Homo sapiens: one gene and its partners. The protein of the gene in region 1 purifies or fractionates together with the protein of each later gene. This does not show direct contact. Each region holds a gene or a part of one and is shown on either strand. Other genes may lie near its edges. The genes, in order: TPTE, ATP2A2 and GCN1.

Region 1 (3,751 bases):
GAGATCATGCCACTGTAGCCTGGCGACAGAGTGAGACTCTGTCTCAAACAAAAAAAAAAGAAAAGAAAAGTGGTTCATGATAACCCTCAAATATGTTGGCCTTTAAAAGACATAAACAACAGGCCAGGTGCAGTGGCTCATGCCTGTAATCCAGTACTTTGGGAGACCCAGGTGGGCAGATCACTTGAAGCAGGAGTTTGAGACCAGCCTGCCTAATATAGTGAAACCCCATCGCTACTAAAAATTCAAAAATTAGCTGGGTATGATGGCATGTGCCTATAGTCCCAGCTACTTGGGAGGCTGAGGCACAAGAATCACTTGAACCTGGGAGGCAGAGGTTGCAGTGAGCCGAGATCATGCCACTGCACTTCAGCCTGGGTGACAGTGAGACTCTGTCTCAGAAAACAAAAAGCAAATGTAAACACACACGCATAAACAACAGTATTGCAACTAGAAGAGATTATTAATAATTATTTATGTATGTAGTGATTGGGCTGTGAGACCAAAAGTACTTGATAAATACAGGAAGTCATGATAAGTGAAAAGGAACTTCATTGTTATCATTATCTAGGTTTATAGTTCTCAATTCCATGTGTTCATTCATAGGTACTTGATAACATTACAACAGACAAAATATTAATTGATGTATTCGACGGTCTACCTCTGTATGATGATGTGAAAGTGCAGTTTTTCTATTCGGTGAGTAATCACAAAGTAGCCTCTGCCATTGTTCTTGTCTGGTCTAATGATTTCATGTAAGATTTGCTTTACTACAATTCCCAACAAGGGAGGGGTAGGGGGAAGAAAACAATAAATCAGATCTATAACAAATTTTTTTAAAAGAGCGTATGTAATTTAAATAATTTTTGTTCATTTGTTTTTTTCTAAATTGTAAATTTTCTAAATTTTTCTAAATTTACATGTATTCTCAAATACAAAAAATACAAAATAAACACACACACAAAGTCAAGATGCTAAAAAAAAAAAACCCCAAAGGTATGTTTTACTGCATAGCATTGATTACATTTTGTTTTGCATCTTTTTTAAAAAATTAAGAAATTGAGACAGGGTCTCACTGTGTCACCCAGGCTGGAGTGCAGTGACGTGATCATAGCTAACTGTAGCTTCAACCTCCTGGGCTCAAGCAATCCTCCCACCTCAGCCTCCCGAGTAGCTGGGAGCACTGACTGGAAAGAGAGTTAGGTTTGGGTGACTCAGTTGGGTGAAACAGAGAAGGCAGCACAATACAACACATGAAATAACCGAAGCAGTTTTTTATTAATTCCAGAGAGAGGAGGGCAGCACACTTCGCAGGGCCAACTAGAAGGGGGAGCCATCCAGGAGACCTGTGCTCGACTGATGGGTGGGAGCAATAGCGAGAGAGAGGGAGGGACCTGAGAGTGGAAGCCTTTATTGGGATGTAAGGTGCTACCTGAGCAGGTTTCCTGCGGGGAGGTCTAATTTGGTTTAATGCAAGCAGCTATGAGTCTCTGCTGTGACTGAGAGGTGGTCACTGATATATCCACATGGTCCCTGCAGAGTATGGGGGTCTGTGGGGTGAGTCAAGTAGGTTATATTTAGCTGTCCCATAGTGAAGTGGTCATCATGAGAAGGTTGTGTAAGGCAGATATCAGGATCAGTCACATGGAGAAACTGGGAGGAGGTGAACGGGAAACTGCTGCGGGTGACTGAACCCCGCTTCTGATATCAGAAAATCCAATTTATAATTAAAAGGGATGCTGAGGCAACAAAAAAATTACAAGAATTCACTACAATGTAGTTGGGTATATATAGACATAGGTCCTTAGTAGAGTCTGTTTGGCACTATCTAAACCAGATTCAAATAGCAGCATTTAAATTAAATACCTATCATGGGAAAAATACTATTCCTTGAAAATTTTGATAGAAACAGCAAGAGAATGCAGTAGCATTTTCTTAAAGCCTCCTCCTTTGTGTCTTGAGTGTATTGTTATAGATTGCAGAGTGCCACATATTTAATGGTTATAATTGTTTGATAAATATAAAAAAGAATAAAGAAAGGAACTTCAATTTCTTTGGAATGATTAGTTCTTGGTATCAGTTTTACTTTGAAATTTTTTTTTCTTTTTAGAATCTTCCTACATACTATGACAATTGCTCATTTTACTTCTGGTTGCACACATCTTTTATTGAAAATAACAGGTATGAATATAATAGAAACCCATAGAAACAGCCTAATCTTCAATGTCTATGTATAAGGTGTAATGGCAAGTCTTTTGCTGGTTGTCATAAACTTAATTTATAGAAAGCAAAAAATCCTTGAACCACCATTGTTCCTTGCCTTACTCTTCTTACTTTGGTTATTTTAAAAATCCATTTGTTCTTGAGACCCACTGTTGCAGTATCCTCAGGGTCCATGCCATAGGACTGTGTTACGAGTTCAAAAGTATTATCATCAGATCTTAAGTGTGGTAGTAAATTCCTCCCAGAGAAGTTCAATATGAGGCTGCTCAGCACCTTCAATATGTCAGGTCCCTGTCAGTAGGTGTTGATTTACCAATGATGAACCACCATCAACTTTTGTGCTAAAGGAAGGCAGGACCTAGGGAGGCTTCAGCTAGCTGAAAAGCTGACTGACACACTTATATCTAGGAGAAGTCACAAGACACAGTATTAAGGAATACAGCTAAGAAATATCATTAAGTAATAGTCTATTTAAATAGCCATTCAAATATGGCTTTCTAATAACTGAATTGGGAAACCTTTCTGAAAAATTATTAATTGGATTTGGAGATTATTGTTCCAAAAAAACCTTCTGCCATATTTGGAAACTCATTTCTCAGTCTAGAAGTTCTCCACTGTAAGTAGCATTTGTTTTGTGATGGTGAAAAATTGAGACTTTTTTTGTGTCAACCATACTCTTCAATACAAAAGGACAAAATATTTTTTAAATGATTTAGGTCAGAGTTGAAGAAGTGGCTATGATTATATGTGGCATGAATTGATAGTTATTGTTACATCCAGTCCTAATCTTTTCTTCAAATGTGAACTGGATCGAATGATTCCTTAAGTCCAGCAAGGCAACAGGAAATTAAACCTCTGGTCTGCACACTTGCAATGCAAAACATTTAATGGATTTTGATAGAGTCAACTTTGTATTTGATGGAAATTTTTTACAAGTTTTTTTTTTTGGATGCATACAAACAATAAGCTTTTTATTCTAACATGAGCAAAGACCCTCAAAAAGTGAGACCTGGGTGGAGCTTCATTTGATGCTGCTCCTCAAAAGTGGTTCTTGCTAAAGGATACCATTTTTTTTTTCCTTTAAAACACTATGTTCATTTTGGAGAAGTGATAAGCTAGGTCACTTTTATTCTTATTTTATATAAATTTCTAAAGATTTCTGTAACATTTAAATTTACATCCTACTTGGTAAAGCTGTTTTTGTTATGAGATTGTTGTTTAGCTAAAAATGCTAACTTCTATCATTGAGAACACGAGGCATAAATGGGTTAACCAATTTATGCCTAGTGTTCCATTATTGGAACACTCAGCATGTGGGAGTTATATCCTACTGCTCAAGGTCATTTCCAAGGTCTGATTGTAAAAATTCAAAAAATTGCAACCTCACACATAAATTAAAAGAGATATAGTATTTTATTACTGGGCTTTCATTCATGTCTATCCTGACTGATTTCTGTCACAGAGAGAAATTTAGATATTTTATTAAACTTGGATGTCATTAATTCCATATAAAGCAATGCTAAGAGAG
Region 2 (3,751 bases), on another chromosome or scaffold:
AATAATCAATGGGGATTCTACTTGAAAATTCACTTTTTTATTTTGGAATTGTGTTGATTTTTATCCTGACACCCTTTGTTCTGGTATTAATTTCCATTACTAAGTTTTCCCAGCTTACCTCCTTTGAATGAATTGGGCCTTTTGCCAACCTTTTCTCACACTAACAGTATCCCAAGAGTGGTAATGGGTGGGCATGAATGAGAGGTTCTAGGTTCTTGGTGTGGGTCGCAGAGATCTGTTTTTTCTGTCTCACAACCCGCTTAGGTGAATCTGTCTCTGTCATCAAGCACACTGATCCCGTCCCTGACCCACGAGCTGTCAACCAAGATAAAAAGAACATGCTGTTTTCTGTAAGTACTTTATGAAATGTGTTTTTATTTACAGACATTTCCAAAGCCTAATCAAATGTTATGTTTTTCACTGCCAACCATCACTGGCTATCATTCTAAAGGATAATCACACTTTTCATGGTCAGTCTTAGGTGTCAGAATATGGCAGTAACATAACGTGTGACTTAGATGTCTTTTAATTGGCAAGTTTTGGGGGACCAAAAAATAATGACTAGCTTATACATCTTCAAACTCTTACCTGCAAACATAGTTGAAAAGTAGATTTGTTTGGAAAAGCCTTAGCCAATAAAGGGTATTTTCAAAATGATGTAGATGACAGCTGCTATTTGTATGTGGTTCACAATAAAAAGGTGCGTGTTTAGAGAGAGAGAGAAAGCAAACATGGCAAACCATTAATAATGGTGAGTCTAGGTGCAAAGTATATGAATGTTCATTTTACTATTTCACTTTTTCTATTGATGTGAAAAATTCTTTGAATAGTGAGGAAATGATTTTAAGTTGGGGACATTTGTGGGTTTGTATGAGAACCTGACTACTACCCATAGTAAGTAAATAGAGGTACCCTGAAAATAGTGAAGCCATGTCCTTCTCTTATAACACTAGGAATTAAAGTGGCATGGGAGAGACTGCTCACATTTGATTTCTTTGGTTTTTGGACCCTGTCACATGAGTAGGGGTTGTCAAGATAGCCCATGGGGCTAGTTGCCGTTTCTATTACAGTGAGAAAAGTAGGGGCCTTGAGTTGTTGGAGCCAGAAGTGGAGAATGCTTAGAGTTGAACTATATGAGTTTGAAAAATTGGGAACACAGAGGGGTTAAGAGCACTGCTTGAAGATGGTCTGCAAGCCGGGCTCAAATAGAAATCTAGGTGGGTCAGTACAGAGCTGCCTGACATAAGTAAGTAGCACATGGAGCATTGCTTGTTGTCACAGTTGTATGGCTGGTTGCTTGAACAGTAGCCAGTGGAAGACCTAGTAGAATGTGTAGAGAATCTGGGTGCCCTAGTCAAAAACCAGCGTCGGTATTTAAGTTGGGATGTGGTATTCATCTTGTGACCAGTTCTCTACTTCTGTCCTAGGGTACAAACATTGCTGCTGGGAAAGCTATGGGAGTGGTGGTAGCAACTGGAGTTAACACCGAAATTGGCAAGATCCGGGATGAAATGGTGGCAACAGAACAGGAGAGAACACCCCTTCAGCAAAAACTAGATGAATTTGGGGAACAGCTTTCCAAAGTCATCTCCCTTATTTGCATTGCAGTCTGGATCATAAATATTGGGCACTTCAATGACCCGGTTCATGGAGGGTCCTGGATCAGAGGTGCTATTTACTACTTTAAAATTGCAGTGGCCCTGGCTGTAGCAGCCATTCCTGAAGGTCTGCCTGCAGTCATCACCACCTGCCTGGCTCTTGGAACTCGCAGAATGGCAAAGAAAAATGCCATTGTTCGAAGCCTCCCGTCTGTGGAAACCCTTGGTTGTACTTCTGTTATCTGCTCAGACAAGACTGGTACACTTACAACAAACCAGATGTCAGTCTGCAGGGTAAGAGGAGTAATTTAGAATATTCCGTGTCGTGGTTCTTTGTTCATCCTACCAATATGCCTTCATGCCATCAAAACTTTTGATTTGTAATTTCATACATTTCTGTGGGCTGTATGTATAGCCTGAGCTTAATTTCTAATATTTGAGAGGATCTAATCATTTAATTCCTAAAACTTTCACAAAATACAGGATATCTGTATGGCTGATATACTTGTATTAGATGTAAGAGAATTAGAGAAATTATATTTTCCTTTAATTAAAAAAAAAAAAAGCCTGGGCGCAGTGGCTCACGCCTGTAATCCCAGCACTTTGAGAGGCCGAGGCGGGTGGATCACCTGAGGTCCGAAGTTTGAGACCAACCTGACCAAAATGGTGAAACCCTGTCTCTACCGAAAAGACAAAAATTAGCTGAGTGGTGGCGTGCACCTGTAGTCCCAGCTACTCGAGAGGCTGAGACAGGAGAATTGCTTGAACCTGGGCAGCGGAGGTTGCAGTGAGCCAAGATCACACCACTGCTCTCAATTCTGGGCGACAAGCAAGACTCCATCTCAAAGAAAAGAAAAGAAAAAAGACAAGGTCTCATTCTGTTGCCCAGGCTAGTGTGCAGTGACACAGCTGTGGCTCACTTACAGCCTCAACCTCCCAGGCTCAAGTCCTCCCACCCCAGCCTCACAAGTAGCTGCAACCACAAGTGCATGCCACCATGCCCCACTAGTTTTTTTATTTTTTTTTGTAGAGGCAGGTTCTCACTATGTCACCAGGCTGGTCTTGAATTCCTGGGCTCAAGTGATCCTCCTGCCTTGGCCTCCCAAAGAGCTGGGATTATAAGCATGAACCACCACACTCAGCCTCCTTTCTAATTTTCCTGATCCTCTGTCTCTAGGTGTATGTTAATAGACAAGTTCTAGAGAAAGCTGCTAGTTAACCTCCCTACCTGAAGTCCTAATTGGTTTTTCTATCACATGTTGAATGAAGCGTGCTTTTTCTCAAAAAGTAGATAGTCATCTCTCTGTATTCATTAGAGATTGGTTCCAGGACCTCCCTCAGATACCAAACTCTGCAGATGCTCAAGTCTCTGAAATGAAATGGTTCAGTACTTGCATATAACCTTGTTCATCCTCCAGTATACTTGAAAACATCTCCAGATTACTTACAGTACCTAACGTAATATTATAAATGATATGTAAATAGTTAAACTGTGTTGTTTAGGGATAGTTAACCTGTGTTGTTTAGGGAATAATGACAAGAAAAAAATGTACATGTTCAGTACAGATGCAGTTATTTTTTCCATCTGCTGTTTAGTTGACCGTGGATGTGGAACCCACAGGTACAGAGGGCTGACTAAAATTGCTTTTAACTTGCTTTATTCTGTGTATTCATCATATATATTTTTGTTTGTTTGTTTGTTCTTGTTTTGAGATGGAGTTTCACTCTTGTTGCCCAGGCTGTAGTGCAATGGCCCGATCTCAGCTCACTACAACCTCCGCCTTCTGGGTTCAAGCAATTCTCCTGCTTCAGCCTCCCAAGTAGCTGGGATTACAGGCATGCGCCCCCACGCCCGGCTAATTTTTTGTATTTTTAGTAGAGATAGGGTTTCTCCATGTTGGTCAGGCTGGTCTCGAACTCGCGACCTCAAGTGATCCACCCGCTTTTGAAAGCCTCCCAAAGTGCTGGGATTATAGGCGTGAGCCCCCGCGCCCGGCCATCCTATATTTTTTGACCATCATTTGATAAAATAAATAATTTAAACCTGCTGTTAGAAAAGTAACAACTGAATAAATAATGCAATAATTATACAGCTGGATTATTTTGTATAATTCACTTTCCTTAGGTTTTGCTTAAACAACTTGGTACAAGTC
Region 3 (3,751 bases), on another chromosome or scaffold:
GTGCCCTGATGCCCATGCCATAGAGGCTTCACTACTCTCTGTCCCCTTCTACTGGCTGCAGGCGATCATCACTGCCCTGGGGGTAGAGCGGCGGAACCGGGTGTTGGCAGGGCTGTACATGGGCCGCTCAGACACCCAGCTGGTGGTGCGGCAGGCGTCCCTGCATGTCTGGAAGATTGTTGTCTCCAATACCCCCCGCACCTTGCGTGAGATCCTACCCACTCTCTTTGGGCTCCTGCTGGGTTTCCTGGCCAGCACGTGTGCAGATAAGAGAACGGTGAGTTTCCTGGGCCTTGTTTTGGACCAGCAGCCCCAGTGCCTCCTTTCAGAGCCTAGAAGGCTGGGTCTGCAGAGCCTGGGAAAGTACCCATCCACCCTGCCTAACAGAGGGACATTGTGTTCTTTACTTAGTCATTCTGCAAATATTTTTTGATTAATTTTATTTTATTTATTTTTTTGAGGTGGAGTCTTGCTCTGTCGCCCAGGCTGAAGTGCAGTGGCGTGATCTCAGCTCACTGCAAGCTCCGCCTCCTAGGTTCATGCCATTCTCCTGCCTCAGCCTCCCGAGTAGCTGGGACTACAGGCATCCACCACCACACCTGGCCATTTTTTTATATTTTTAGTAGAGACGGGGTTTCAGCACGTTAGCCAGGACGGTCTCGATCTCCTGACCTCGTGATGCGCCCGTCTCGGCCTCCCAAAGTGCTGGGATTACAGGCTTGAGCCACCACGCCTGGCCTCTGCAAATATTTATTAGCATCTCCTGTGCACTAAGCAGGGGCCTAGCACCTGGGGACACAATGGAGAAGAAAGGCAGCTTCATTCCTTATCCTCATGAGAGGTAGTCTAGTCGAGGAGATGGATATTAATCAAATAACCACACAAAGAGATGTAAAATGCGACTGTGGCCAGTGCTGCATGGCACTGCAAATGCTTATAATAGCTGCATTTGACCTGCTGGGGAGGGATGGGCCTGTGTTAGTGAACACTTCTCAGAAGAAATGATGCTGGAAGATGAAAGATAAGTAAGCACTAACCAGGTGAGGAGGTGGCGAAAGACCATTCCAGACAGAGGGAATAAATAATGTTTCAGATACAAAGACAGGATATGCAGAGGTCCCGTGGTGGGCAGGAACATAGCACCAGTAGGGGCTGAGCAAGGCCAGTGTGGCTGGAGTGAGGAGGCAGGGAGGAGCAGTGCGGCATGAGATCAGGCTGGCGCGCTGGCAGGGGCAGACAGATCAGTGGGCCTGGAGGAGGTGCCCAGATGGGCTGGTGATCATTTCTGCCCATCTCCTTTGGTCTACTTCCAACCCCCCATCCTTGGCAAGCAAATTGTGTATTTGGCTCTAAAGAAGGGTTTGCATGAGGTCTCAGAAAGTAGATGTTTTTTTTTCCTTAAAGCTTTGTTCCAGATTCGGCTCCTGCTCAGCCATAGCACAGTGTTAAGGCTTCAGTCATCCAGGGAAATTGGCCCTTGACTGTGCAGCAGATGATGAATTTTTTGTACATGTGTAAGGTGCTGCTGGCTCTTAATGTTAGGTTGTGTAGGTGTGTGTGAAACAGATAATTTTTTGGTAGTGTTTTGCAAGCACTACAGAGAGTATTTGGGGGCTCTTTAGGGGTAAGAGCATTTGGGGAAGTTAAGTCAGTGATTCAGATAAAGCCTGGGAGGTTTCAGGGCCCTCATTCTGGAGTCCTCCTCTGGGTGCCCTGGGCTTTGCAGGGACTTTACTTCCTGGATTGGTCTCTGTTGACAGATTGCAGCGAGAACATTGGGAGATCTTGTGCGGAAGTTAGGGGAGAAAATCCTCCCCGAGATCATCCCCATCCTTGAGGAAGGCCTGAGGTCTCAGAAGAGCGATGAGAGGCAGGGTGTGTGCATTGGCCTAAGTGAGATCATGAAGTCCACCAGCCGGGATGCCGTGAGTATCTTCCAAGGATCCCGCCAGCTGTGCACTGCAGACGACCTGACTCAGAGGGCGGGGGAGGGCTACTGAAGGAGGTTCACCTCTAGGGGGTTTGTGCTGCCCTCAGGGATGAGCCAGTCTCACTCTGGGGAGGTGCTGGCTGGGCCACATGGACTTGAGGCTCCGTCTTCTCAGCTTTCCTGTCAGTTTTGCAGGCTAAGAGCTAAGTGATTTGGATGCCTCCTTGAGTGGCCTTTGGAAACTGGAGATGATCGCTCTCTTACAACTGTGGAGGTTGCTCAGGATCAGTCTCTTTTGTGATGCTATATAAGTCCAGTTAAAATGTGTGCACCTCCTTCTGGGAAAGGGGATGGACAGCTGTGTGAGTGGGTAGGGCAGGAGGGTGCGGGAGGGGGTGTGCACTCACCCTTAGCAGGAGGGGAGCAGGTAAGAGTTGTGGTGCCAGGTGGGAGGAAGCATATTGCGTCTGGCAACAATACTGTTTCCATAGCAGCAACGTTCAAGGGGTGTGAAGTCCATTACTCTTACTTGGTTCCTGAGTTAAATGATCCTGGAGACCACCCTGGGGAGTAGGTTAGGAGTGCTTTTAGGCACTGCCTTCGTGTTTGGATGAAAACGCCAAAGCAATTAAGTGGATGGCCCGCTAGAAATGTAAGCAAGTGGCCAGTTGCTTGGCTTGGGCATCCTTGTCTGAATTCCTAGGATACCAGATCCCTCTTCTCCTATATTGATGTTTGTCTTACGTTTGGTTTTTAAAATTTACATTTGGCAAGGAATCAAAAGAAATTCTGTCATCAGAAAGAGTTGTGATTCATTGGAGAGGTAGAGTTCCACAGAGGCTGAGTTCTTGTCTGCAAAGTCCCCACAGTCCAATGGCAAGGCCCACATGCCAACCAGTCATTAGAATGCAGAGTGGGCTTTGCTGTGCTGGGATCGTTACTGAGGGAGCAGAGCCATTATTGGCTCCATTGTAGACCCAAAGACTTCATAGAGCACAAAGTCTGGATTGAGACTTGAAGAAGGACTTGGAGTTTTCCAAGAGAATAAGCAAAAGAAAGAGTCCAGGGAGAGAGGGGGCCAGATGCCATGGGAAGGAGTTTGCAGTTCTTAGAGAAGATGGGAGGTATATTGAGAATTCACCTAAAAGATTCAAGCTGTTGATTATTAAGTCTCAGTGAAGGATACATGGGGGTGCATCACATCCTCTCTGCTTTTTTTTTTTATTGAGACGGGGTCTTACTCTGTCACCCAGGCTGGAGTGCAGTGGTGCGATCATAGCTCATTGTAACCTTGACCTTCTGGGCTCAAGTGATCCTCTCGCTATGGCCTCCTGAGTAGCTGGGGACTATAGGTGTGCACCACCACACGTAGCTAATTTTTGCATTTTTAGTAGAGGTGAGGTCTCACTATGTTGCCCAGGCTGGTCTCAAACTCCTGGCCTCAAGTGATTCTCTTGCCTCCACCTCCCAAAGTGTTGGGATTACAGGCGTGAGCCACTGTGCGCGGCCCCTCTCTACTTTTTAATTTTTTTAAAATTTTTAGTTTAAGACAATCTCACTCTGCTGCCCAGGCAGGAGTACAGGGGCACCATCTCTTTTGGCTACAGCCTCTGCTTCCTGGGTTCAAGCGATTCTTGTGCCTCAGCCTCCTGTGTAGCTGGGATTACAGGTGTGCACCACCACACCCAGCTAATTTTTGTATTTTTAGTAGAGATAGGGTTTTGCCATGTTGACCAGGCTGGTCTCGAACTCCTGGCCTCAAGTCATCCGCCCACCTTGGCCTCCCAAAGTGCTGGGATTACAGGTGTGAGCCACCGTGCC

What was found.
Region 2: the proteins of TPTE (region 1) and ATP2A2 purify together in Homo sapiens (affinity purification with mass spectrometry; 2 studies listed by BioGRID and IntAct, with this or other methods). This does not show direct contact.
Region 3: the proteins of TPTE (region 1) and GCN1 purify together in Homo sapiens (affinity purification with mass spectrometry; 3 studies listed by BioGRID and IntAct, with this or other methods). This does not show direct contact.

Annotation. Positions count from the first base shown.
Region 1 is NC_000021.9:10,601,452-10,605,202, forward strand, and holds part of TPTE (putative tyrosine-protein phosphatase TPTE), read left to right. Parts: intron 1-606; coding exon 607-699; intron 700-2,110; coding exon 2,111-2,181; intron 2,182-3,751.
Region 2 is NC_000012.12:110,326,126-110,329,876, forward strand, and holds part of ATP2A2 (sarcoplasmic/endoplasmic reticulum calcium ATPase 2), read left to right. Parts: intron 1-264; coding exon 265-350; intron 351-1,427; coding exon 1,428-1,892; intron 1,893-3,751.
Region 3 is NC_000012.12:120,139,033-120,142,783, reverse strand, and holds part of GCN1 (stalled ribosome sensor GCN1), read left to right. Parts: intron 1-61; coding exon 62-277; intron 278-1,760; coding exon 1,761-1,925; intron 1,926-3,751. UniProt on the Homo sapiens protein: Ribosome collision sensor that plays a key role in the RNF14-RNF25 translation quality control pathway, a pathway that takes place when a ribosome has stalled during translation, and which promotes ubiquitination and degradation of translation factors on stalled ribosomes.